Linked DNA regions of Homo sapiens: regions 2 and 3 are each linked to region 1. The links come from fine-mapping of genetic effects on gene expression. A gene starts in region 1. Each other region holds a variant in brackets. All regions are shown on one strand. Distances are from middle to middle. Region 1 holds the start of STK31 (serine/threonine kinase 31). Region 2 overlaps STK31 (serine/threonine kinase 31). Region 3 holds the start of FAM221A (family with sequence similarity 221 member A).

Region 1 (7,785 bases):
AGAGAAGCAGCCTTTGTGAACAAACCCCTGGAATCAAAATATTCCATATAACTATATTTTTTCACTATACAGACTAAAACAAATAGGAGCTCTTTGTTTGTTTGTTTGTTTGGTGCAATCTCAGCTCACTGCAGTCTCAATCTCCTGGGCCCAGGCAATCTTCCCACCCTCAGCCTCCCACATAGCTGGGAACACAAGCATGCACCACCATGCCTGGCTAATTTTTTTTTTTTTTTTTGTAGCGACAAGGTCTTACTGTTGCCAAGGCTGGTCTCAAACTCCTGGGCTCAGGCGATCCTCTCACATAGGTCTCCCAAAGTGTTGGGATTACAGGCATGAGCCACCATGCCTGACCAGAAGCTTGTTCTTTCAAAGAAACAGGTGGAGTCAAATACGTCAGATTCCTTCAGCTGCCACTCATCCAATCTGAAGTGTTTGCTTATAAGTGGTTTATAAGGCAGAAGCCCACAGGGCAAAAAAAAATGGAGAATACACGTGAGCAGATTTTCATCCTAATCTGCCTACGCGTATTTCCAAATCTCTAGTCTTCTCTATGCCTATATCCCACCATAACCCCAACCAAATTTGCCAATTTGCTTATTGAAATAACCACTACATTCATTTATATACCATTAGTAGTTTTAATGTTTAATCTTTTCATGCGCATGTTTCCTGTTTTAAACGTTCTTCTACAAGAGCCTCAACTTCATGGTTTAACTCAGAGGTTGGCAAATTACAGCCGCCTGTTTTAGTAAATAAAGTTTACTGCATCACAGCTACACACACTCATTCACATTATGTCTATGGCTGCTTTGCACTATGTTGGCAGAATTGAATAGCTGCAAAACAAACTGTATGGCCTAAAAATGGTAAAATACTCATCATCTGATCCTTTACAAAAAAAAAACTGCTGACTCTTGAATTTGCTCCAAATTCAATCAACATATTCACAAATAAAGTAAACTGAAATCAAAGTCTAGAGCTGCACTAGTGAATACAATAGCCAATACCCACTTGAAATATGGCTAGTCTAAGGAGATATGCTGTAAGTCTAATATACACACTGGATTTCAAAGACAATATTAAAAAGGAAATATAAACTATCCTGTTCACATTTTTATGCTAATTATATTTTGAAACAATATTTTGGATATATTGAGTTAAATAAAATGTACTTATTAAAATGTCACCTGCTATTTTTAGTTTCTTCAATGTGGCTGCCAAAAATGTTTTAAAATTACTTACATGGCTCATATATTTCTACTAGACAGCACTAGTCTAGAAAATCTTTTTACACTGATAAATGATGTTTCTGTATAATAAGCTTAAATATAATTTATCATCCACCCTGGGACACTGTTGAGAGTGATGCAGTTGTCACTAATACAGAGACAATGGGCATGGAACCAGAACGTGTGAGCAACCTTTAGAGAATATGCATAAGCAGAAACAAATTTGCCAAATATATGTGCATAAGCAGACACACGAATTTGCCCCAAGTTTTCTATAACATCACCCTTCTACAATTTTTTTTTACATGCAGCCATGCCCCACATAGTGACATTGTGGTCAAAGAATGAACCACACACACTACAGTAGTCCCGTAAGATTATAATGAAGCTGAAAAATTCCTATTGCCTAGTGTAGTCCTAGCCATTGTAACATCATAGAACAATGCATTACTCACATATTTGTGGTGATGCTGGTGTAAACCTACCGTGCCCCAGTCTCACAAAAGCACAGCACATACAATTATGTACAGTACATAATACTTGGTAATGAAAATAACTATGTCACTGGTGTGTGTGTATATATATATTTTTTTTTACTATAATTTTTCTTATTTTAGTGTACTCCTACTTATTTAAAAAAGTTAACTGTACAGCCGCCTCAAGTCCTTCTGAAGGTATTCCAAAAGGGCATTTTTATTACAGAAGATGACAGCTCCATGCACATTACTGACCCTGAAGACCTTCTAGTAGGACAAGAAGCGGAAGTGAAAGACAGTGATATTGAAGATCTTGTCTTCGTTTTTAACCAAAAAGTTTTTAAAGTAAAAAAAAATTAAAAGTTTAAAAAGAGAAGAAAGCTTTAGAATAAGGACGTAAAGAATATTTTTGCACAGCTCTACAATGTTTGTTTTAAGCTGTGTTACTACAAATGAGTCAAAAGTTTATTAAAAGTTACAGTAAGCTAAGGTTTATTGAAGAAAAATATTTTTATAAATTTAGTGTAGCCTAAGTGTATGGTATTTATAAAGTATACAGTAGTGTACAGTAATGTCCCAGGACTTCACATTCCTCACTACTCACTCAATGACTCACCCAAAGCAATTTCTAATCCTGCAAGCTCCATTCATGGTGAGTGCCCTATACAGGTGTACCACTTTTTAATCTTTTATAATATGTTTTTACTGTACCTTCATGTTTAGATACATAAAGACTTAATATTGTGTTACAATTGTCTGCAGCATTCAGTACAGTAACATGAGGTACAGGTACACCACATGGCCTAGGTATGTGGTAGGCTATATCATCCAGGTTTCTCTAAGTACATTCTATGATGTTCATACAGCGACGCAGTTGCCTAATGATGCATTTCTCTGTATGTATCCCAGTCATTAAGTGATGCATGACTATATATTTAAGAACTCTGGGTTAATCATATTCTTCTAGAACTTTCTTCTCATATATTCTCCTTATTTCCCACATTACGAGTTCACCTCACCCCCCACCAAAAGGAGTTCCCATGCTGTAGGGAGTATAGAGAAACGTAATTTCTTTCCCTTCCGTATCATGTATAGTTTACAAAACCAAAAATTAGCAGGTCGTTCTGTGCATCAGAGGAATTTACCTTCTTAAATTGTGGAACACAGCCCTTCAGTGCTTGCTTTGTATTTAAAACTGAGTAACCTTACCTAACTGACACCCTCCCAACAGAAAATCAGAAATGTTTCATTCATGCTTCCAATTCTATAATGAGAAAAATACCACATCTCAAATTTAAGCCATTAGAAAAAACGACCGAGATTTTTAACTTATCCTCCTTCAAGAAACAATCTTATAAAAGACCCCTAGATGGGGCTATAACTTCACAAATACAACAGGCTCTCAGAATCCAGCAAAAGCAGCCTAGAATTGAGTGGAATTCTGAAATCACAATCTTGCCAATTTTCTTTTTTCAAACTTGGTGTATTATGGGCATAACACTTGACTCATAATGAGTCAAGTAACATCACAGCTGTCAACATTTGTCTCCTAATAATGCCTGGTGATAAATAATTCAATAAATATTAGGCAATGAGAATGACAAATGTATTTATTCCTGGGTTTTATTTTTGTTTTTGTTGGGGAGGAACTGGATTGGGGGAGGTGAGGGGGGATATCAACCAGTTTGCTATTTACCTGGGCCCAAAATGTTACTGCATCTTCTATGTGACTTCCAACCACATCTTCCACTAAAATCAAATCACAATACAAGGAAAATTAGAAATTAATCAGTATCATCTAGCTCTTACACCCCAAAATAATTTTTAGTGTCAGTACCTTTATCGTAATGTGTATCTTCATCCATTTGAACAATTCCTGAAAAACTAGAACAATACCTTAAATTAGATTACAATAATCCACCATTAATAATGAATGAAGACTAAACTACATCATGTTCAATTCTTACAAATGTTTTGTCCTAAATGCAGTTATCAAAATTCAAACTCTATATTAAAAATGAGCTCAATATTTCCTTCACTAACTAATTCTTTTGAGTATTTTGTAGTAGATGCAATTTTATCATATATAATCTCTATCCTTAAAATTATCTCTAGCCAAACTTTTACAAACTTATACTGAACTCATATACATTTTGATCACTTACATAAATCAATACTTTGAAACAATGTACATATTCTTTTTTTAGAAAATATCCTCCCATAAAAAGGACTTCCACAATGTAAACAAAGAGAAACATTACAAGTAATAGAACAAATGCTTTAAACTGGTAGTCTATTTTATGTAAAAGGCACGGTGGTTACTATTTTTGAAGATTCCGTGGGATTAAAGACTGCAAAAATACCTAAAATTTTGCCTATTACTTCAAAAATAATTTTAATTACATAATATTATACTTTATCAAATGCAAAAATATTCCAAAATAAATGTACACTATGTAATTTTATCTGTAATATACTAAAATACTGCACTTTCCATTCATAAGTGTTGAAGGAAAATTAAAACACAGATTTTTTATGGGTTTTTTTTTTTTTCCCCCCAAACGAAGTCTTGCTCTGTCGCTCAGGCTGGAGATCTTAGCTCACTGCAACCTCCACCCCCCGGGTTCAAGCAATTCTCCTGCCTCACCCTCCCAAGTAGCTGAGATTACCGGCGCGTGACACCACGTCCAGCTAATTTTTGTATTTTTAGTAGAGACGGGGTTTCACCATGTTGGCCAGGCTGGTCTTGAACTCCTGACCTTGTGATTTGCCCACCTCGGCCTCTCAAAGTGCCGGGATTACAGGCCTAAGCCACCGCAATTTTTTAAGAGCTTTAAAAGTTGTCTAGGAACACCACTATACTAAAGTTTCAAATGCTCTCTCATTATGAAAAGGAAAACATTAACTCCTCATCACAGAAAAATAAAATTTTAAAAATGGATTACTTTGTCACAACTTAATTTTTTAAAAAAATTTTTCGTAAGTGGCATGAAAATGTCTCCAAAGCAAGGGTTCTTTTCTACTGGTCAAAAAGCAGTTTTTAAATTCAACTGACTGAAAAGCTGTAATAACTTTTAGGGAGACTATATATTCCCACGGAAAGCATTAAGGCTTAAATTCAGTAAAAGTTAAAATTACTTTGGAAATCTCTCCACACACTCCAAGAAGCTACTTCTAGAGTAGTTTTTAAATCTTATTTTAAAATGACTTGCCCTGATTATGAAGGCACTGATGCCGTACCCACTTTCTGCAAACAGAGATCACAAAATAGTACGTCCAAATCTCCACTTCGTGATGAAAATTTGGAAGAAACGGGTACACGTAGCTCTCTGACACTTATTTTATAAGGGATTTTGAAACTTAAATGGCACAGAATTTTCGAGAAGGGGAAGAGAGTGTGGAGGCTGCGTGACCGCGTCTTCATGGAGATCATTCAGGCCGGAGGTCTTTTCGAGCCACTTTCGCCTGCCTGCATGCACTCAAAAACTGGGGCATCTGGCACCCCTCTGGGGTGGCGGGCGGCTAGAAGGTGACAGAAAACCCTGAAATGGGCCTCGTCCCAGGATTGGAGACTTAAAACGCAAGCAGCGACGAAAATAGTCCTTGAAGCGGCCACCACTGCACGTACCACAAAAACTACTACTGACCTCACACTTTCCGTTGCGGAAGCTCTAGAAGAGTGACCCTGGACCCACATACTGGACTTTCGGCCCTCCGCCCGCCGTAGCACACGTGCAGCGGCTTACCGCGTGAGCTTCGACCGCAAGGGCCCCACACTGCGCCTGCGTGCACAGCGCTGCGCCATCATCCGGTGTTAGCGGGAGTCACGTGGCAGCCACGGCCTGCCGCCTAGGAAGAAGCGTGCGGGAGCCGCCTGACGCTGGCTGCTGCCGACCCCCAGGCACTGAGGCTGCGCCCTGGTGATTTATAGGCCGGGGTGGGGTCTAGGGCCAGTTCCTTTCGCAAGGCTTCAAGCTGTGACTTTAGAGGTGACGTAGGATTTCGTGGTCTTTCCTAATCTGTTCACGTGGATTTAAATTTTAGAAACACCCAAATTAGAAGAACCCCGACATTCTATTTACACGATGGAAGAGAGAAAATAACTTTGGTAACTGAAAATGTGTTTTTCAGATTGGTAGCTTTACAAGCGTTGGTCAACTAATCCTTAGATTCCACAGCTCTCTGTAGTATTACAACTTTTTCCACAATCTTAAGAAGAAAAAATTAGTTGTCTGCTTCTTTGCAGATATTACACTTTGTGGCAAACCTTACACAACAATTGAAAATTATCTCCGGTTAATTTTTAACAGCTTGAAGGTTAAAGTACAATAAACTGCAGATATCAAAAGTGCATAATTTGTTAAGGGTGAACATATGTATACACTGTTGAAATCACCTCCACAATTAAGATAAACTTTTCCATCACCTCAAAGTTTCCTCATGCCCGGTTGTAATACCTGACTCCTCCCAGCTCCCGTTCTGCTTTCTGTCACCATATATTAGTTTGCATTTTCTAGAATTTTACGATAATAGAATCATACAGTATGAACATTTAATCTAGCTTCTTTCCAATAGCATAATTATTTTGATTGATAAATTTCGTCCTATGTGTCAAGAGTTTGTTGGGTTTTATTGCTGTTACTATTCCACTGCATGAATATAACACAATTTGTTTATCTACCTTTTAATAGGTGTTTGGACTGCTTCCAGTTTTGAATTGTTTCAAATAAAGCTGCTATTGTGTGCAAGTCTTTGTATGGACATATGTTTTCATATCTCATGGGTTAGTACCTAGGAGTGGAATGGCCAAGTCATAGAATTGTATATGTGCTTAAAAAATTGCCGCATAGTTTTACACAGTTGTACTATTTTATATTCCCACCAGCGGGTTTCAGAGTTCTAGTTGCTCTATATCCTCACCATCATTTGATATGGTTTGTGTTTTTAAGTTTAAACATTCATGTATAAATGTTTAAAGTGGTATCTCCTTGTGATTTTAATTTGCATTTATTTCTCTACTAACTAAAAATGTTGAGAAACTTTTCTTATGTTTATTTTCCATCCAGATCTTCCTAAATGAGGTGTCCAAGCTTTTTCCTGTTTTCTAACTGAATTTATTATTGAGTTTTGACAGTTCTTTATATACTGTGGATAAAACTCCTTCAGGTTTGAAAATATTTTCTCCCAGTCTACAGCTGTCTTTTTGTTTTCTAAAAAGGGTACTTCAAAGAACAAAAGTTTTTAATTTCAATAAAGTCTAATTTATCGGTTTTGTCTTATGGTTCATGCTTTTGTGTTGTATGTAAGGAATCTCCGACTAGCCTGGTTCACAAAAGTTTTCTTCTATATTTTCTTCCAGAAATTTTACATGTTCAAGCTTTACATTTTGATATATAGTCCTTTTTGAGTTTATTTTTATAACATGTGAAACAATCAAATTTTATTTTATTGCATATGGATATCTAATTTTTCCAGCATCATTTGTTTAAAACACTGTCATTTGTCTATTGAATTGTCTTTGCACTATTGTCAGAGATCAATTAACCATACATACGCAAGTCTATTTCTGGATTCTCTGTTCTGTTACACTGATCTATTTGCTTTCTTTAGACTAATACCACACTGTCTTAATTACGGTAGTTTTATTTCATGCGATCGTAGAAGCAATTTGTCAGCATCTACACACACACACACACACACACACACACACACAGAGCCTGCTGTGATTTTGATTGGGATCACATTGAATGTATACACCAATTTGAGGAGAATGGACATCTTAGCTATATTGAGTCTTCTGATCCATGAGCACAGTATATTTATTTAGGTCTTATTTTATCTCGCTGAGTGATGTTTTATGCTTTTCATTATAAAAGTTTTACTTTTGTCTGATTTATCCCTAAGAATTTCATTTTTCATGCCGTTGTAAATTGTATTATTTTCTTAATTTCAACTTGTTTGTTTTGTTGCTAGTATATAGAAATATAACTTTAGTATATTGTGTATTATTTCTGTGATAGTTTTTTTGTGGGTGGGTGTGTGTGTGTAAGACAGGGTCTCGCTCTGTCACCCAGATG
Region 2 (10,773 bases), 85 kb before region 1:
ATAACACTCTCTTAAAAAAATGGTGTTGTAAAATTGGACATCCATATGCAAAAACATGAACCCTGACATAAACCTCCCACCTTACACAAAAATTACATCCAAAGAGATCTCAGCTCTAAATGTAAACCATACAACTATAGAGCTTTTAGAAGAAAATATAAGAAAAAATATTCAAGTCTTTGGGTTATGCGAAGAGTTCTTATACACAACACTAAAAGCATGATACATAAAAAGAAAACAATAATAAATTAAACTTCAAAATTAAAACCCTTTTCTCTGCAAAAGACACTGAAAAGAAAATAAAAAGAAAAGCTACAGGCCAGAAAAAAATCATTGCAAATGACATCTGATAAAGGACTTCTATCTAGAATGTATTTATGAATGCCCAAAACTCTACAGCAATAAAACAAAAATCCAATTAAAAAACAGGCAAAAGACAGACACTTCACCAAAGAAAATACAGAAAGCCAATAATAAACAAACTAAAAGATGCTCAACATCATTATCTATTAGAGAAATTAAAACCACAATGAAACACTACCACACACCTATGAGAATGGCTAAAATAGAAGATAATAACAATACGAGGTGCCGACAATGATGCTGAACTGAAACTTTCATAAATTGCAGGTGAAAATCAAAAACAGTACAGCCACTCTGGAAAACAGTTTGGCAGGTCCTTAAAGAATAATACATACGATTACAATCTGACCCAGAAATTTCACTCCTGGGTAATTACCATAGAGAAACAAAAACTTACGTTCACATAAAAACCTATACACACATGTTCACAGTAGCTTTATCTGCAATAGTCAGACACTGGAAACAATGCAAATGTTCTGCAACAGGTGAACAAACAAATTTGGTATGTACATACAACAGAGCACTATTCAGAAACAAAAAAGGGAAAAACTACATTAGACAACTTGAATGAATCACAAAAGATGATTCACATGCTGAATGAAAGAAGCTAGACTCACAAAATTATATACTGTATGATACCACTAATATGATATTATTTTTATTTATATTTTTTTCTATTTTTTCTTTTTTTTATATACTTTAAGTTCTGGGATACACGTGAAGAACGTGCAGGCTTGCTACATAGGTATACATGTGCCATGGTGGTTTGCTGCACCCATCAAACCATAATCTACATTAGGTATTTCTCCTAATGCTATCCCTCCCCTAGACCCCCACTCCCCAACAGGCCCCACTGTGTGATGTTCCCCTCCCTGTGTCCATATGTTCTCATTGTTCAACTTATGAGTGAGAACATGTTCACTTATGAGTGAGAACATGAGGTATTTGGTTTTCTGTTCCTGTGTTAGTTTGCTGAGAATGATGGCTTCCACCTTCACCCATGTCCCTGCAAAGGATATGAACTCATCATTTTTTTAAGGGTGCACAGTATTGCATGGTGTATATGTGCCACATTTTCTTTATCCAGTCTATCACTGATGGGTATTTGGGTTGGTTCCAAGTCTTTGCTATTGTGAACAATGCTGCAATAAACTTAAGTGTGCATGTCTTTATAGTACAATGATTTATAATCCTTTGGGTATATACCCAGTAATGCGATTGCTGGGTCAAATGGTATTTCTGGTTCTAGATGCCTGAGGAATCGCTACACTATTTTCCATAATGGCCGAACTAATTTACACTCCCACCAACAATGTAAAGCGTTCCTATTTCTCCACATCCTCTCCAGCATCTGTTGTTTCCTGACTTTTCAAAGAGTGCCATTCTAAGTGGCATGAGATGGTATCTCATCGTGGTTTTGATTTACATTTCTCTAATGACCAGTGATGATGAGCTTTTTTCATATGCTTGTTGGCCACATAAATGTCTTCTTTTGAGAAGTGTCGGTTTATATCCTTTGCCCACTTTTTGATGGGGTTGTTTTCTTTTTGTAAATGTGTTTCAGTTCTTTGTAGATTATGGATACTAGACCTTTGTCAGATGGGTAGATTGCAAAAATTTTCTCCCATTCTGTAGGTTACCTGTTCACTCTGATGTGTTCACTTCTGCTGTGCAGAAGCTCTTTAGTTTAATTAGATCCCATTTGTCAATTTTGGCATTTGTTGCCAGTGCTTTTGGTGTTTTAGTCATGAAGTCTTTGCCCATGCCTATGTCCTAAATGGTATTACCTAGGTTTTCTTCTAGGGCTTTTATGGTTTTAGGTCTTAAGTCTTTAATGCATCTTGAGTTAACTTTTGTATACGGTGTAAGGAAGGGGTCCAGTTTCAGTTTTCTGCATATGGCTAGCCAGTTTTCCCAACACCATTTATTAAATAGGGAATCCTTTCCCCATTGCTTGCTTCTGTCAGGTTTGTCAAAGATCAGATGGTTGTAGATACTTCTGAGGCATTACTTCTGTGGCCTCTGTTTTGTTCCATTGGTCTATATATCTATTTTGGTACCGGTACCATGCTATTTTGGTTACTGTAGCCTTGTACTATAGTTTGAAGTCAGGTAGCATGATGCCTCCAGCTTTGTTCTTTCTGCTTAGGATTGTCTTGGCTATACGGGCTTTTTGGTTCCACATGAAATTTAAAGTAGTTTTTTCTAATTCTGTGAAGAAAGTTAATGGTGGCTTGATGGGGATAGCACTGAATCTACATATTACTTTGAGTAGTATGGCCCTTTTCATGATACTGATTCTCCCTATCCATGAGCATGGAATTTGTTTTCCATTTTTTTGTGTCCTCTCTTATTTCCTTGAGCAGTGGTTTGTAATTCTTCTTGAAGAGGTCCTTCACATCCCTTGCTAGCTGTATTCCTAAGTATCTTACTCTCTTTGTAGCAATTGTGAATGGGAGTTCACTCATGATTTGGCTCTTTGTCTGTTACGGGTGTATAAGAATGTTTGTGAGTTTTGCACACTGATTTTGTATCCTGAGACTTTGCTGAAGTTGCTTATCAGCTTAAGGAGATTTTGGGCTGAGATGATGGGATTTTCTAAATATACAATCATGTCATCTGCACACAGACAGACTTTGACTGTCTCTCTTCCTATTTGAATACCCTTTCTTTCTCTTGCCTGATTGCCCTGATCAGAACTTGCAATAGTATGTTAAATAGGAGTGGTGAGAGAGGGCATCCCTGTCTTGTGCCAGTTTTCAAGGGAATGCTTCCAGTTTTTGCCCATTCAGTAAGATATTAGCTGTGGGTGTGTCATGAATACCTTTTATTATTTTGAAATACATTCCATCAATACCTAGTTTATTGAGAGTTTTTAGCATGAAGGGTGTTGAATTTTATCAAAGGCTTTTTCTTGCATCTATTGAGGTAATCATGTGGTTTTTGTTTTTGGTTCTGTTTATGTGATGCATTATGTTTACTGATTTGCATATGTTGAACCAGCCTTGCATCCCAGGGATGAAGCTGACTTGATTGTTGTGGATAAGCTTTTTGATGTGCTGCTGAATTCAGTTTGCCAGTATTTTATTGAGGATTTTTGCATCAATGTTCATCAGGGATATTGGCCTGAAATTTTCTTTTTTTGTTGTGTCTCTGGCACGTTTTGGTACCAGGATGATGCCGGCCTCATAAAATGAGTTAGGGAGGATTCCCTCTTTTTCTACTGTTTGGAACAGTTTCAGAAAGAATGGTACTAGCTCCTCTTTGTACCTCTGGTGGAATTCGACTGTGTATCTGTCTGGTCCTGGACTTTTTTTGGTTGGTAGGCTATTAATAACTGCCTCAATTTCAGAACTTATTGTTGGTCTATTCAGGGATTCGACTTCTTGCTGATTTAGTCTTGGGAGGGTGTATGTGTCCAGGAATTTTTCCATTTCTTCTAGATTTTCTAGTTGATTTGCATAGAGGTGTTTATTGCATTCTGTGACGGTAGCTTGGATTTCTGTGGGATCAGTGGTGATTTCTGCTTTATCATTTTTTATTGTGTCTATTTGATTCTTCTTTATTAGTCTGGCTAGTGGTCTATCTATTTTGTTAATCTTTTCAAGAAACCAGCTCCTGGATTCATTGATTTTTTGAAGGGTTTTTCATGTCTCCAGCTCCTGCAGTTCTGCCCTGATCTTAATTATTTCTTGTCTTCTACTAGCTTTTGAATTTGTTTGTTCTTGCTTCTGTAGATCTTTTAATTGTGATGTTAGGGTGTCGATTTTAGATCTTTCCCGCTTTCTCCTGTGGGCATTTAGTGCTATAAATTTCCCTCTAAACACTGCTTTAGCTGTGTCCCAGAGATTCTGGTACATTGTGTCTTTGTTCTCATTGGTTTCAAAGAACTTATTTATTTCTGCCTTAATTTTGTTAATTACCCAGTAGTCATTCAGGAGCAGGTTGTTCAGTTTCCATGTAGTTGTGCAGTTTTGAGTTAGTTTCTTAATCCTGAGTTCTAATTTGATTGCACTGTGGTCTGAGAGACCATTAAGATTTCCATTCTTTTGCATTTGCTGAGGAGTGTTTTACTTCCAATAATGTGGTCAATTTCTGAATAAGTGTTATGTGGTGCTGAAAAGAATGTATACGCTGTTGATTTGGGGTGGAGAGTTCTGTAGGTGTCTATTAGGTCCACTTGGTCCAGAGCTAAGTTCAAGTCCTGAATATCCTTGTTAATTTTCTGTCTCGTTGATCTGTCTAATATTGACGGTGGGGTGTTAAAGTCTCCCACTATTATTGTGTGGGAGTCTAAGTCTCTTTGTAGGTCTCTAAGATCTTGCTTTATGAATCTTGGTGCTCTTGTATTGGGTGCATATAATATTTAGGATAGTTAGCTCTTCTTGTTGCGTTGATCCCTTTTCCATTATGTAATGCCCTTCTTACACTTTCTTGATCTTTGTTGGTTAAAATTCTGTTTTATCAGAGACTAGGATTGCAATCCCTGCTTTTTTTTTTGCTTTCC[A/G]TTATCTTGGTAAATATTCCTCCATCCCTTTATTTTGAGCCTATGTGTGTCTTTGTATGTGAGATGAGTCTCCTGAATACAGCACACTGATGGGTCTTGATTCTTTATCCAATTTGCCAGTCTGTGTCTTTTAATTGGGGCATTTAGCCCATTTACATTTAAGGTTCATATTGCTATGTGTGAGACATTCTTAAAAGCACAAAACACAGTGATAAAAGGTCAGTGGTTGCCAGCGTTTAAGGGTTGGGAGGAGGCTGTGACTACAAAGGGATGGCACACAGGAATTTTCAGGGTTATGGAACTGTTCTGCATCCTGGCTGTGGCAGTGGTTATTACACTAATCTATAGGTGTGTTAAAATTCATAGAATGTATACAAAAAAAAGTCCATTGTACAAGTTAATCTAAAAATAAAGTTTTTAAAGGACTTAATCAACAATACATAAGAGTAGAAAATCAGACAATATATTTACTCATGGAGCTTTTTACTATCATTTAAAGGAAATAGGTGGAATAAAAACTGCTATTACCACACTTATGGGATATCTTATGAGTCCTCCCAGAAACAAAAAAAAAAACTTGATATGTTTACTTTCACCCTTCTGATATAAAGAATAGATTACTGAAGCATTGATGAAAATCATGCTAGTTTATTTCCATGAGGGTGCTGGTTCAATGAAACCAGACAACTTTAAATATACATGCAGGCATAGGGCTAAAGTCATGAGAACAGTATGGGGGAACCACCCCGTAATTCAAATATCTCCACCTGGGCCTGCCCTTGACACACAGGAATTATTAAAATTCAAGGTGAGATTTGGGTGGGGACACAGCTAAACCATTATCATTCCACCCCAGGCCCCTTCCAAATCTCATGTCTTCACATTTCAAAAACAATCATGCCTTCTCAACAGTCCCCCAAAGTTTTAACTCATTTAAGCATTAAGTCAAAAGTCCACAGTCCAAAGTCTCATCTGAAATAAGGCAAGTTCCTTCTGCCTATGAGCCTGTAAAATCAACAGCAAGTTAGTTACTTCCTTGATACAATGGGGTACAGGCATTGGGTAAATACACCTGTTCCAAATGGGAGAAATTGGCCAAAACAAAGGGGCTACAGGCCTCATGCAAATTCAAAATCCAGCAGGGCAGTCAAATCTTAAAGCTCCAAAATGATCTCCTTTGACTCCATGTCTCACATCCAGGTCACACTGATGCAAGAGTGGGCTCCCACAGCCTTGGGCAGCTCTGCCCCAGTGGCTTTGCAGGCTACAGCCCCGCTTCTGGCTGCTTTCATGGGCTGGCATTGAGTGTCTGTTGCCTCTCCAGGCACACAGTGTGATCTGTCAGTGGATCTACCATTCTGGGGTCTGGAGGACTGTGGCCCTCTTCTCACAGCTCTACTAGGCAGTACACCAGTTGGGGCTCTGTGTGGGAGCCCCAACCCCTCATTTCCGTTTTGCACTGTCTTAGCAGAGTATCTTCATAAGGGCTCCACCCCTGCAGAAAACTTCTGCCTGGACATCCAGGCATTTCCATACATCCTCTGAAATCTAGGTGGAAGTTCCCAAACCACCATTCTTGACTTCTGTGCACCTTCAGGCTCAAACCACATGGAAGCTAACAAGGCTTGGGGCTTGCACCCTCTAAAGCCATGGCCTGAGCTGTACCTTGGCCCCTTTTAGCCATGACTGGAGCAGGTGGGACACAGGGCACCATGTCTGAAGGCTGCACACAGCAGGGGGACCGTGGGCCCAGCCCATGAAACCATTTTTTCCTCCTAGGCCTCTGTGCCTGTGATGGGAAGGGCTGCTGCGAAGCTTTCTGACATGCCCTGGAGATACTTTCCCCATTGTCCTAGCGATTAACATTCAGCTACTTGTTACTTATGCAAATTCCTGCAGCTGGCTTGAGTTTCTCCCAGGAAACGGGTTTTCTTTTCTACCACATCATCAGGCTCCAAATTTTCCTAACTTTTATGCTCTGCTTCCCTTTTAAACATAAGTTCCAATTCCAAACCATATCTTTGTGATTACACAAAACAATGCTTTTAAAAGCACCCAAGTCACCTCTTGAACACTTTGCTGCTTAGAAATTTCTTCCACCAGATGCTCTAAATCATCTCTCTCAAGCTCAAAGTTTCACCAATCTCTAGGACAGGGGCAAAATGCCACCAATCTCTTTGCTAAAACATCAAGAGTCGCGTTTATTCTAGTTCCAACAAGTCCCTCATCTCCAGGTGAGACCACCTCAACCTGGACTTCACTGGCCATATCACTATCAGCATTTTGCTCAAAGCCATTCAACAAGTCTCTAGGAAGTTCCAAACTTTCCCACATCTTCCTGTCCTCTTCTGAGCCCTCCAACCTCTGCCCATGACGCAGTTCCAAAGCTGCTTCCACATTTTCGGGTATCTTTACAGCAGCATTCCACTCTCTGTACCAATTTACTGTACTGGTCCCTTCTCACACCACTAATAAAAGACATCCCCAAGACTGGGTAATTTATAAAGGAAAGAGGTTTAATTGACTCACAGTTCAGCATGACTGGGGATTCCTCAGGAAACTTACAATCATGGCAGAAGGGGAAGTAAACACATTCTTCTTCACATGGGGGCAGCAAGAAGTGCCAAGCAAAAGGGAAAATGCCCCTTATGAAATCATCAGATCTTGTGAGACTTACTTCCACAAGAACTGCATGGGGGAAACTACCCCCATGATTCAATTATCTCCACCTGACCCCACCCTTGAAACATGGGGATTACAATTCAATGTGAGATTTGGGTGGAGACACAGCCAAACCTTATCATCTGGCTTCTTTCTCTTGGCAGAATTATTTTAAGACTCACCTATCTTACTGAGTTATATTTATAGTTCAATCGTTTTATTCCTGAGTAGTATTCCAATGGATAGACACATACATAGCAGACTGTTTTTCCATTCATCTGTTGATGGACTTTGAGTTGTTTCTAGTTTTCATCTATTACACATAAATTCTTTCAATATTTACATACAAATCTTTGTGTGGACATATGCTTTCATTTCTCTTGGCTAAATATCTAGAAGTGGAATTGCTGGGTCATAGGGTAGGAATATGTTCAACCTTTTAACAAACTGCCAAATGTTTTTCAAAGTGGTTGTTCCCTTTACATTCCCCTGGGCAATATATATGAGTTCTAGGTACAACAGATCTAAGCAACCGTTGGTACGATCTTTTTAATTTTATACATTATAGTGAGTAGTATAGTGGTATCTCATTTTGGTTTTAATCTGTAGTTCCCTAATGACAAATGGTGTTCAGAGCATCTTTCACATGCTTACATGCCATGTGGACACCTTCTTTGGTAAAGTACCTGTTCAAATATTTTGCCCATTTCTTAACTGGGCAGTCTTCTTAGTATTGATTGTAGGAGCTCTTGATAATCTGGATATAATATTTTTGTCAGATATATGTTTTGCAAATATTTTCTCCTAGTCTGTAGCTTGCCTTTCATTTTTGTGACAATGTCTTTAGAAGAGCAAGGTTTTCCATTTTGATGAAATCCAAATGATTTTTTTCTTTTAGAGTTGATGTTTTCTGTGTCCTACTTAAGAAATCTTTGCCAAATCGAAAGTCAAATATTTCATCCTATGTTTTCTTCTATAAGTTTTAGACTCACGTTTTACATTTAGGTCTGATACACATTTTGAGCTAATTTTTGTGCATGGTATAAGAAATGAATCAAAATTTATTCTCTACATATGGTATGAGTTGGCCTGTATCATTTTTGTTGAAGATTCTCCTTTTACCCAGAGAACTGCCTTGGCATCTTTGTCAAAAGCCAGTTATCATACATGTGCAGTCTATTTATATTGTCTCTATTCTGCTCCATTCATCTGGACATCTAACTTCACAGCAGTATCACTTGTGTTTTTAGAAACAGGGTCCTGCTCTGTAGCCTAGGCTGGAGTGCAGTGGAGCAGTCATAGCTTACTGTAGCCTTAAACTCCTGGACTCCAACAATCTTTCTGTCTCAGCCTACCAAGGAGCTAGAACCACAGACACGCCATTACACCCAGCTAATTTCTATTTTTTGTAGAGACAGGGGGTGCTCACTTGTGTTGCCTAGGCTAGTCTTCAACTCCTGGCATTAAGCAATCCTCCTGCATCAGCCTCCCTAAGTGCTGGGATTACAGTTTTGAACCACCACTCTAGGCCTACATTGTCTTAATTTCCTAGAATCTATTAAGTCATAAAATCAGGTAGTTTGGGTCCTTCAATTTTGTTCTTTTTCAAACTTGTTTTGGCTATCTCAGATCCTCTCCATTTTTATATTAATTGTAAAATCTAATTGTCAATTTCTGAAAAAATAAGCAAAATCTACCAGCAATTTTGTTGAAATTGCATCGAATCTATAAGCCAAGAACAACTGATATCCATACAATGTCTTCTAGTCCATGAGCATGGTGTATCGCTCCATTTATTTATGTCTTCTTGAGTTTCTCTGAACAATGCTTTGTAGTTTTAATAGTGTGCAACTCTTGCACATCTTTTACTAAATTTACCCCTACAAATTCCATATTTTAATACTTTTGTAAATGATTTTTAAATTTTAATTTCCTATTATTTGTTGCTTATATAAAAACACAATTATATTGAAATTAAAACTGCTATCTTTCTAAACTCATTTGTTCTAGTAGCTTTTATGTACATTCTCAAAGATTTTCTACATAATTAAGCATGTCATCTGCAAATAAAGACAGCTTTATTTCTTCATTTTCAAACTCTATGACTTTTATTTCTTTTTTTGACCTTATTACACTGATTGGAACAGAGATCAGCAAACTATATGGCCTCTGCACCAAACTGATTCCACTACTTGTTTTTGTACAGCTGCAAGCCAAGGGTAGTTTTCACATTTTTAAATGTTTAATAGCAAACTGAAGGAATACTATTTCATGCACATGCATACTACATGAAATTCAAATTTCAATATCCATAAATAAAGTACTACTGGAAAAGAGCCACACTGATTTGTTTACATACTGTCTATGGCTGCTTTCATGCTATAGCAGCAGAACTCAGTACTTGCAACAGAGACCATCTGGTCCTTTACAGAAAATGCTTGCTGGCCCCTGGGCTGATAAGAATAGTCTTCCTTCTCTTAATACTTAATCCCTCTTAACTCTTGTTTTTCTAACAAGGAGATTATTTTTATTTATGTGATCAACAAAGATAAGGTTTTGTCACACTCAAGACTTTGGAAAAAGAGGCATTCTCTACGTAAAATAGCAGTACAACATGAAACAAGCTTTTTATTTTTTTGTCTTCCAACTTTTATTTTAGGTTCAAGGGGTACATGTGCAGGTTTGTTACATGGGTAAACAGTGTGTCATGGGAGTTTGGTGTACAGATAATTTTGTCACCCAGGTAATCAGCCTAATACCTAACAGGTAGTTTTTCAATCCTTACCTTTCTCCCAACCTCCACCCTCAAGTAGACCCCAGTGTCCCTTCTTTGTGTCCATATGTACTCAGTGTTTAGCTCCCACTTATAAGTGAGAACATGCAGTATTTGGCTTTCTGATCCACAGTAAATTCGCTTAGGATAATGGTCTCCAGCTCCATCCAACTTCTTAATTCTTAAACTATGGATGAGAAACAGCTATTTGGTCTACACTGGAAGCAGGAATATACCCAAGGCTTATTTAACATTTATTTTCCATATATGCATGAACTGCTTTCAGATTAATGTAGGACAAAATCATCTTCACTGTTAATCTTGACTTCAACAGAACCAAGACAATAGCATGATACCTAAAATATACATCAAGCCAATTTGTAGAAAGTACACAATAGGTAATAGGAAGCATATCAATAGTTTTTGTTAAAACTTAAAGTTCTACTAAAAGTCTGCTGCTTTTTATTTT
Region 3 (10,773 bases), 29 kb after region 1:
AAGAGCGAAACTCCATCTCAAAAAAAAAAAAAAGAAAAGAAAAAGTTCTTTACCAATGTTATTTTTGTCACAGTGCATTACTTAAATTTATTTGCATGTTTGCTACTTAAAATAGAAATATATTCAATAAACATGTGTTGATGTAATTTATTTTAATATGACTTTTGACTTCAAAATAAATTATCAATATTTTTGAAAGCCAAAGCTCCTTCTTATAGTATTGTAATTTTCTTAAATAGATCACTCACTTTCTTCTCATAGGTGATATTCAGTAAAATAATACTAAATTTATTATTCTCAATATTAATCAAAGAAATGCAAATTAAAGGCCGGTTGCGGTGGCTCACACCTGTAATCCCAGCACTTTGGGAGGCTGAGGCGGGCAGATCACAAGGTCAGGAGATCCAGACCATCCTGGCTAACACGGTGAAACCCTCCGTCTCTACTAAAAATACAAAAAATTAGCCGAGCGTGGTGGTGGGCACCTGTAGTCCCAGCTACTTGGGAGGCTGAAGCAGGAGAATGGTGTGAACCCGGGAGGCGGAGCTTGCAGTGAGCCGAGATCACGCCACTGCACTCCAGCCTGGGCAACAGAGAAAGACTCCGTCTCAAAAGAAAAAAAAAAGAAATGCAAATTAAAATGAGATACCATTTTAACTTAGCAAAAAGAGTCAAAGTTTTTAAAAACTATATGTAATACACAATGCTATCAAGAGTGTTACGAAAGGGCCAGGAGCCTGTGGCACATGCCTGTAATCCCAGCACTTTGGGAGGCCAAGGCAGGTGGATCACTTGAGCTCAGGAGTTCAAGACCAACCTGGGCAACATGATGAAAACCCCATCTCTACTAAAAATACAAAAATTAGCCCAGCATGGTGGTGTATGCCTGTAGTCCCAGCTACTCGGGAGGCTGAGGCAGGAGAATCCCTTGAACCCAGGAGGCAGAGGTTGCAGTGAGCTGAGATGGCACCACTGTACTCCAGCCTGGGCAACAGGCGAGGCTCTGTCTCAAAAAAAAAAAAAAAAAAAAGAGTGTTACAAAAGAACAAATTCTATTTAATAATGTTTCAAGAAACTTGAAAAGGTCCATTCTTTGAACCAGAAATTTCATTTTTGGAAAATATACCCTAAGAAAATAATTCCATATATAGAAAAAGCTTTATGCATACCAATAATATTAGCAATAGTACTTACATCAGCTACATTATACACACACCCACACGACATAAGAGAACCAGTAAGTAAATTACTAGACAACAGTTTTCAAACATTTTAGCAGTGAAACCCTTTTGTCAAATAAAATCTTTTATAGAACCAGAATACATAAAACAAATGCAGAATTGGTTAAAGCGAAAGGAAGAACAGAATAGAGTTTCCCCTTCTAACCTGCCCTTCCACCTGGCACACCCCCAAGGCTCCCTCACAGCTCCGGAGAACACAGATAAACACCACTGGACTAGCTGGACTAGCTGGCAGGTATTAAAAATCTTGTTTTTGATCAGCACATAACAATGTGGAAACATATTTCTATGATTCTGTCATTAAAAAGTGGCTCAGTATTTTATGCACACACATACTTCACAACAGTTAAATGGCACAGTGGCTCATGCCTGTAATCCCAGCACTGTGGGAGGCCAAGGCAGGTGGATCACCTGAGGCTGGGAGTTCGAGCCCAGCCTGACCAACATGGAGAAATCCCGTCTCTGCTAAAAATACAAAATTAGCAGGGCATGGTGGTGCATGCCTGTAATCCCAGCTACTCAGGAGGCTGAGGCAGGAGAATCGCTTGAACCCACGAGGCAGAGGTTGTAGTGAGCTGAGGTCGCGCCACTGCACTCCAGCCTGGGCAACAAGAGTGAAACTCCGTCTCAAAAAAAAAAGAAAAAGTCATACAGATATTGTAAAAAAAAAAAACTAGCAGCTGGCTTTGGGTAGTGAGCTGCTTCTATATATTGTATATAGAATATATTCTATGTTTCTATATATCCCCCATTTTCCTTGATAATCATATACCACTTTAATAGTGGGGTGAAAAAGTTTGGAAGAAATCTCACTGAGTGGATCAGTACTAAATATAATAACTTCTCCATCAAAGTTGAGTTGGGTCAGCTGAGCATGGTGGCGCACACGTGTAATCTGAGTACTTTGGAAAGCCCGAGGTAGACAGATAACTTAAGCCCAGGAGTTCCAGACCAGTCTGGGTAACAAAGCCAAACCACTTCTCTACAAAAAAATACAAAAATTAGCTGGATGTGGTGGCAGACGCCTGTGGTCCCAGCTACTTGGGAGGCTGAGGTCGAAGGATCGCTTGAGCCCAGGAGGTCGAGGCTGCAATGAGCCAAGATCGTGCCACTGCACTCCAACCTGAGTGACAGAGTAAGACCCTGTCTCAAAAAAAAAAAAAAGTTGAGTTGGATCAATTCTGACGTTCAAGTCCATGCTGTATAAGTTATACAGAGATTAGAAAGTGGCACTAAATTTGTGTAAGAATAAATTATAAAACTATCACAAACTTACCAAACCCCTCTTTAATTCTGAAAGATATCAACACATCCCTTATCCTCCATTCCTCCTCAGTGTTTTTAGTTGGAGTTGCTAAATAAATTTATAATCAATCTATATACAACATTACTCATCCTAGCAACTGCCTAACAAACTTTGGCAAACTGCAACTCTGTAAATAGCAACTATACAAAGAGTCTCTGTGAAAGAGCCCCAGAAATTGCTATCAGAATAGGGTGGTTCCTCTTGGAACCGAAAGTTAAAGTTGCTGCCTGAAAACATGGAACAGGTTCAGAGACTTTTCTGTGAAGCAGCTTAGGTATTCTGAACTTTATTTACAACTGTGAGACGGTAGCAAAATTTAAAGTAGAGCATACACACAGCAAAACGCAAACTTCAGATACAGACAACTCAAGCCAAAAACTGAAGCCTCACTTATTTCCTTTCCTTTAGGCACTTTTCTTGGAACATGACCATTTGTAATGCAAAGCAGTGTGCTTGTTTGTTTAAAGAAAGGTATCGACACAGCAGATCCTTAAGGTATAAAAGGCAATTAGTAAATTTGAGGAGAAATGTTTATACTTATAGATGGACAGCATGATCAGTGTGGGTCAATTCAAGCAACGCTTAAAGTAGTTCCTCAATCTGATGACCCATTCTCTACTTTCTCCAATGATGTGAGATGTAGGTAGACTGCTCCCCAGTCAAACTGAAAGACCCCTGGCAAAGCCACAGGGCCACCAAACATTTTTACCAATGGCAAGAGAACTGCTTAAGGTGACAGACTCCATGATGAGCACTAATAAGATATGATGGAAAATTTTTAATTATAGCTTTAAAAACCTTTAGATAATTTTTGTGGGGTTTTGTTTTGTTTTGTTTTGTTTTGTTTTGTTTTGTTTTGTTTTGTTTTGCTTTGTTTTGAGACAGAGTCTCACACTGCCACTCAGGCTGGTGTGCAGTGGCGTGATCTCAGCTCACTGCAACCTCACCTCCCAGGTTCAAGCGATTCTCCTGCCTCAGCCTCCCAAGTAGCTAGGATTACAGGCGTGTGCCACCACGCCCGGCTAATTTTTTGTATTTTTAGTAGAGACAGGGTTTCACTATGTTGGCCAGACTGGTCTCAAACTCCTGACCTCGTGATCCACCCACCTCGGCCTCCCAAAGTGCTGGAATTACAGGCGTCAGCCACTGAGCTCGGCCAATTTTTGTTTTTTAAGAGACAAGGTTTCACTCTCTGTCACCCAGGCTTGAATGCAGTTGCACAATCATAGCTCACTGCAGACTAAACTCCTGGGCTCAAGCAGTCCTCCGGCCTCGGCCTCCCAAAGTTCTGGGATAACACAGATGTGAGCCACCATCCCCAGCTGATAATTTCTACTCTACTATATAAAGGACAATTGTTAAATGTTTCTCAATCATTACGATTTGTAGAAGTAAGATATGCTTAGCTTTTTATTTTCTAATTATCAAAAAACTTTGCAATAAAGTATCTTACCTATGTGTACAAAAACACAGTGTCTCTGGGCCCACAAGTTTACAATCCATCCCTGTTGGTGACCGCCAGCTCACAAATAATCTGTTTTGTAAGCGCAGAGGTAAAACTTTTCTTTTGTATTCTTCATATTCTTCAGGAGTAAAAAGTTTCCCTCCATCATCCTCACCAACAATTCTACAACAAAAATATATATTTCTCTTAAGCTTTGAGTATTTATTTTCTGGGTGAGCTATGACCAGGCCACTGCAAATATTAAATAAATTTGTAAGCTTTTATTTTGTAAATCTGTCTTTTCTTACAGATGTGGCAGGCCGGGTCTCTGTAACAACTGTTTCAGCACTGACTGAGTGGTTAAGTTAAATATTAAAAGCTAATAGAACCAGGGTCCTTATACAAAGGCTGGAATGTAACAAAAGCCCACCGAGCGTTTGCCCAGGCCTTTCCTGGGCCTCGAAGCATGACAACATAACGAAGGAATTCTTAAAGGACCCGTTTGGGACTAAACAAGTTTTACTGGGGGTCTGAAGAAACTCCCCAGACCTCCACAAACAAGTTTACTGGGGGTCTGAAGGAACTCCCCAAACCTCCATGATTCAGCAGGAGACAAGACCAGAGTAATCACCCCAGCACCTGGACCCATTTAGATTAACTAAATTTACTGAGGCTCCAGAGGAAGGTCTTCAGGACTCAGATCTTAGTTATAGATTAGAAGTTAATCATTTATGTCTTTAGATAAATGCACACTTACACATAAACATATATATACTTATAAACATATGTAATTTTGAATTGGTCTGGCGATATCTTCCAGGCCTTCTCCCTATAACCAGTTACAGAAATAATCTCCCTTCTTTCCCAGTTCATCTGAATCACATTACTGGGCCACGAGAATAGGCAGCCCAACTATCGGTTTGATCCAGAAACATAGGTGTCTCAGCCATGAACCTAGTGATGGGTGAGAAAAGAAATCTTTTCTCCCCTCCACTTCCTATA[T/C]AAGAGGGTTATAAATAGGAAAGACAATGAATTCATAATGCAACTTTACTGATCCAGGTTTATCAACAGAGGATTACCACATATTCGTCTCAGCTTTTCCTTTGATATTGAAGCAAAGATGTTCATTCCTCTCATTAAAGGTAGAGCCTTAACTGCTCAAAATTCTAACATTTACCTCCTTTGAAAATGTATCCCAAAAGAGTACAAAAAACATCAAAGCAGAAGCCAACATGACTAATTTCCATACCTGTCTCCAAACCCTGGCCAGGGGTTTAAACTAATGCGGAACCTAAATACACACTTGGCTCAGCACAAGCTCCAACCACATCTGTGTGTTAGGTAATCAAGTTTATCATGGGTTAATTTCAGAAGTAAGAACCCAAAATATTATGGGAAAACATAAAGCCCCCACTATTTCTATGAAAAGAAATTAAGAGTTGGCCTCCCTGGAGGAAAAGAAAGCACGACTAAAAGAAGTTTTTCCAAAACTGAAGACATTTCTCCCTGAAAATACTCCCCTTGAAAAGTCACAAAAAGTGATGTTTGTGGAATGCTACATACTTTTTTGTGCAATACATGCTTTTTTCCATACTTTGAAGCCTTTAGCTGCGGTAGAAAATAAAAACCATTGCTCTATGTACTTGCCATTAGAAAAAAAGAAAAACCAATTTATAAGCTATGAAATAATCAAAACCGCCTTCTTTACATAAACAATCTAGATACATAATAGTAAAGAAACAAAGGGCATTTAATTCTGAGATAAATTTTGGGCCATTTCATTTTCTTGTAGCTATCAAGAATACCAACAGGTATTAAGATCTTAAGATAAATACGGATCTTTAAAAGATCTTTTAAAAGTAAGATGTCATTGGTATTTAAGTTCTAGACCAGTGCAACTCAAATTTTATTGTACTTACAGAATCCCCAGGGGATCTTGCTCAAATGCAGATTAAGACTCACAGCACAGTGGCTCATGCCTGTAATCCCAGGACTTTGGGAGGCGGAAGCAGGAGGATCACTTGAGGTCAGGAGTTCGAGCCCAGCCTGGCCAATATAGCAAAACCCTGTCTCTACCAATAATACAAAAATTAGTATTTTGGTGGGCACCTATAATCCCAACTACTCTGGAAACTGAGGCACTGAGAATCACTTCCACGGAGGCAGAGGTTACAGTGAGCTGAGATAGCGCCACTGCACTCCAGCCTGGGCAGCAGAGCAAGACTCTATCTAAAAAAAAAAATAATAATAATAATAATAATAATAATAAATATATATATACATACACACACACACACACACACACACACATGATAAAGCCAGATGTGGTGGCTCACACCTGTAATACCAGCACTTTGGGAGGCTGAGGTGGGAGGATTGCTTGAGGCCAGGATCTCAAGATGAGCCTGGGCATCCTAGTGAGATCCCATCTCTACAAAAAATTTTAAAATTAGCTGGGTGCGGAGATGCATGCCTGTAGTCCTAGCTAGTTAGGAGGCTGAGAAGAGAGAGTCGCTTCAGCTCAGGAGGTCAAGGTTGCAGTCAGCCATTATAGTGCCACTGCACTCCAGCCTGGGTGACAGAGCGAGACTCTAAATAATAATAATAATAATAGGTCTGCAGTGGGCCTGAGATTCTGCTTTTCTAACAAGCTAACAGGTGATGCCAGGACACTGGTCAGGGCCTCCCACAGTGTGAGTAACAAGGCTGCATGCTTCCCCTCCCAACCGACTCCCACCGAAGTACCTAGGCAAGAGCAAATCCAGGAAAACTCTTCGGAAGGAAAGTTTGTTTCCTTCTAAACTCATATTTTGACTCATCTTCCCACCCCACCTTCCCAGCCCACCTTTTCATATCTAGGTACTCAAGTCCTGTTTTCCCCACTTTTCTAAAATTCTGACGTCAGTAAAGGACCTGATAATCTCTTTCAGAGGGAAGTGTTGCAAGTTATTTACGATTGCAAAAATAATTTCCCAGCCGGGCGCGGTGGCCCAGGCCTGTAATCCCAACACTTTAGGAGGCCGAGGCAGGTGGATAGCTTGAGTCCAGGAGTTCAAGACCAGCCTGGGCAACGTGGTGAAATCCCGTCTCTACAGAAAATACAAAAATTAGCTGGCCGCCTGTAGTCCCAGCTACTCGGGAGGCTGAGGCAGGAGAATCACTTGAACCCAGGAAGCGGAGATTGCGGTGAGCCGAGATCGCGCCACTGCACTCCAGCCTGGGAAAGAGTCAGACCCCGTCTCAATAAAATAAATAACTAAATAATTTCTCAATAAAATAAATAACTACATACATAGGTCTGCCCTAACATGTTCGGAGCTAGGCAAGAGTCAACTGGAGGCCCACAATTCACATATCTAAATATCCAAGTTATCAGTCAACACCAGCTCCAGCAACTTGCTCCCAGGCAAAAGCTCTGGAGAACTGGAGGCTAAAGGAGCCGGCTCTGCTCTGGGAGAGGACGGGATGGTGGTTGTTCTGACCCTGAACCGGGCGTGGGAACTGACCCCATCAAGCTCCTAGCCCTTATTCTTCTGGCTCAGAATATCCAGGCAGTTCTAAGGGTTACCCAAAACTACACAAACAGGGCAGTCAGAGCAGGGGAGAACAGTCAGCTGGGGGGCCGTCTGCGCGCACACCTCTGGGTCATCTGGGCCACCCACGATGCCGCAGAGGAGCCCCTGTCGCTCGCTCCGGCCTCCCTGGCGGAGCCTGGAGCGTCTCCCCTCCGCTTGTACACACACATCCTCCCGCCCCAACTCCGCGTCCTCAGGCGGTCCTCTCCAGGACTTCCCATCCGCCCAGATTCCGGACGATCAAAAACCCCAGGAAGCGGAAAAAGAGCGCGTCGCTGCAGGTGCACCAGCCTCGGTCAGGATCCAGGACAATGAACCGCGTCCTCAGGCCAAAGGAGCGACTCCGTTTCCAGTTTCGGAAGGGGTTTCTCCAGAATACCAAACACCAGTCGGTGCCTTTCTCCTAAAACCAGCACCTCGGGGTGGGGAGCGCGTTCAGAAGTTCACGGTTGACTCAATTACTGGGTTAATTTGATGTATGCTAACTTCTATAGCCCCGAGTACTCGATGTGCCTGTTTTCAATGGCCATTTAAAAAACAGCTGGACCTCTGTATCAATCTAGAGTTAGTCATCCTTCTTGGAAGGGAGCAGAGGGGCCTCTTAAATGTTATTGGAAGACTCATCACTGCATAGAACCGCGTGGCCCTACAATATTTAATTAGGCAAAGACTAAACTGGAATTCATCTAGGCCTCCCCCAACAGCCCAGGCACAGATTCCGGGAACCCCCGCGGACGCCCGCCGGGCCCCTGCTCGCGCCCCCAGCCCAGGGATCCTGGCCCCTCGGAGCGGCGGGGGGGCAGGCCCGGAGCCACAGCCTCACCTCCGGTACTCCAGGTACTCGTCCACCGCCGCCGCGCCGCCGAGAGGCAACGTCAACCGCTCCATTGCCGGTGGGGAAGCCAAAGGCTTCCCTGCGGACCAGCTGACCTCGAAGCCCGACCCGCCCCGTTCCCTCCCGGTACCGCGCCCCCTCCCGCCCGCCTCCTGATTGGCCCGGCCTGAAGCCCGAGGAGGCCGCGCGCGGCAACTGCGCAGGACGCGCGCCCCTACTGGCTGCCGGCGCCAGGCACCAGAACCCGGATCTCCGCAAGCGCAGCCTCGCGCCACATGGAGTGCAGTTTGCCGCCCTCCACAAACCTTGCACCTATTCCCCTCTCCCTTCCCTGGACCGGCGAGTCTTCTTGTAAATTAACAAGTGACAAGGGAGTGCAGTGCCTTGCATATAACAGGCGCATAGAAAATGGCTTATTTCTTTGTACAGCTCTTTTCGCTTAATCCATCTCTTGAAATATAAGTAGTTTTGAGAAGGTTCTGCTTTAGTTTGAGGCCTGCCTCTCCTTAACTGTCGGCCTGTTTCCAGTATTGGCGTTTTCAAAAACTCTGATGTAACAATCAGTAGTCCTGGGTATCTGGGTTCACTTTGGGGGTTGCTAAAGCTACATGTTCTTCAAAGGAACCGAATAACTGATTTAAGGTGAAGCAAGTAAAAACAATTTAGGTGAAGTTTTGTTGTTGTTTTTTAACTTTTGGAAACACTCTGCAAAATATATTTAGAAGCTGAATTACCATGCGATTGGTAATTTGGCCATAATTTGACTTAGCACGTTGTGGAAAAGAATAGGAAATCTTCAGGCGAAGTCATTAAACTCTGAAGCTCCCAGGGGATCAGCTTTAGCGCCCTCTGTAAAGTATCTGGGAGGGAGAATATGCAAACAATAAGAAAAATAATTAAACTTCAGTACAGTACTTTAGTTTCAAAGTACTGTTCTACATATTTCAGGTCCATAAAACATTATGTAAACAAATTGTTTGGGTACCACCCACCTCCCTTCTCGGTACCCTTTCAACAAACCCCACCCTCTCCCCAAAGTCTTCCTCCTGTTCAGAGGCGTTCTTGACAGTCAGATAAATGAGTGATCCTGAAATCGGATTCATATTTTAGGAAACTGATCTCAGCTCAGTATTCTCTCCTATCACACGTGTGGTTTGCTGCTGTCCATTTTACCTCTTCCACCCGACACCTCCCAGATGGGGTCTTGCTCCGTCTCCAAGGCTGGAGTGCAGTGGCGGGATCTCGACTCACTGCAATCTCTGCCTCCTAGGTTCAAGCAATTCTCCTGCCTCAGCCTCCTGAGTAGCTGGGATTACAGGCACTAGCCACCACGCCTGGCTTTTGTGTGTGTGTGTGTGTGTGTATTTTTAGTAGAGACAGGGTTTCACCATGTTGGCCAGGCTGGTCTTGATCTCCTGACCTCGTGATTTGCCCGCCTCAGCCTCCCAAAGTGCTGGGATTACAGGCGTGAGCCACCACGCCCAGCCCCATTCTACCTCTATGAGAGCCTAGTCTTGCTTTTAGGCAGCAACTGAACTAACAAAGAAAAATAGAAGAAAATGCCAGGCTCTGCAGGCTTACAGAAAAGTGGCAGGGGAATGTCTGTGTAGGCAAGTACAATTTAAAAATCTAGAGGGAAATGGTTAAAATAGATTTAGCCCAATTGTGGACTCTTCCAGGAAGATGCTGGAGCAGTAAACTCTTCTGGCCAAAGAAGTCAACAAAAATATTGAGCGTGACGAATAAGAGTATGGAACAAACTAGAAAATGTTATCCTGACCTTACATAAAGCTGACAGATTTGCAAATTAAAATACTGTATATGGTACTCACCTCTGCTTTAATAAAAAGGTATAATCAAACTATAACTTCCTCCCAATGTGTAGCTAAATTGATCTAGGAAGTAGGGTGGACAGAGGAACATGTAAATTGCCTAGGCAAGTGTTAGGCATTTTATTTATTCAATCCTCATGAAAGTTTATGAGATAGGATTTGCCAGCATTTTGCTGTGATGTATAGGTTAAGAATGCTTTCTTCTGAAAATAACAGAATAATTCAACTAACAGTGGCTTAATTAAACATAAATTTTATTTTTTATTGCTTTAAAGAAGAGTGGGGGTAGGTAGTTGCTCACATTGGTTTAGAGCATTTTCCTCATGGTTGCAAGAGCTGTTACAACTCCAGAAATCATACCCAAATTCAAGAAAGGAAAAAGGAGGGCCACCAACATCATTTGTTTCTTTTATCAAAGAGTTTTCCTAGAGGCCTCTGCAAAAAAATTTTCATTTATGTCTCACATGGCCACACCTTGGTATAGAGAAAACTGGGAAAGCCAATCCAGTACTTAGTTTTCCAGGCTCTATGATGGCAATT

Evidence for each region. PIP is the estimated chance that this variant, and not a neighbour inherited with it, causes the effect.
Region 2: its variant is fine-mapped to the expression of STK31 in whole blood (TOPMed, PIP 0.94).
Region 3: its variant is fine-mapped to the expression of STK31 in minor salivary gland (GTEx, PIP above 0.99).

The regions. Positions count from the first base shown.
Region 1 is chr7:23,707,906-23,715,690 of GRCh38, reverse strand. STK31 (serine/threonine kinase 31) reads right to left here and starts at 5,472. Exons shown (of 24, transcript NM_031414.5): 1 at 5,356-5,472; 2 at 3,546-3,592; 3 at 3,405-3,457. The coding sequence starts at 5,405.
Region 2 is chr7:23,791,029-23,801,801 of GRCh38, reverse strand. The region is part of intron 22 of STK31 (serine/threonine kinase 31); the gene reads right to left. Among named protein-coding and RNA genes, the nearest start is that of STK31, 86 kb to the right of the region's middle. RefSeq lists a silencer at 6,285-6,485. The variant A/G (reference allele first, on the strand shown) is at 4,871.
Region 3 is chr7:23,677,900-23,688,672 of GRCh38, reverse strand. FAM221A (family with sequence similarity 221 member A) reads right to left here and starts at 8,474. Exons shown (of 7, transcript NM_199136.5): 1 at 8,390-8,474; 2 at 4,001-4,174. The coding sequence starts at 8,454. RefSeq lists an enhancer at 7,671-7,920 and a silencer at 8,251-8,540. The variant T/C (reference allele first, on the strand shown) is at 4,994.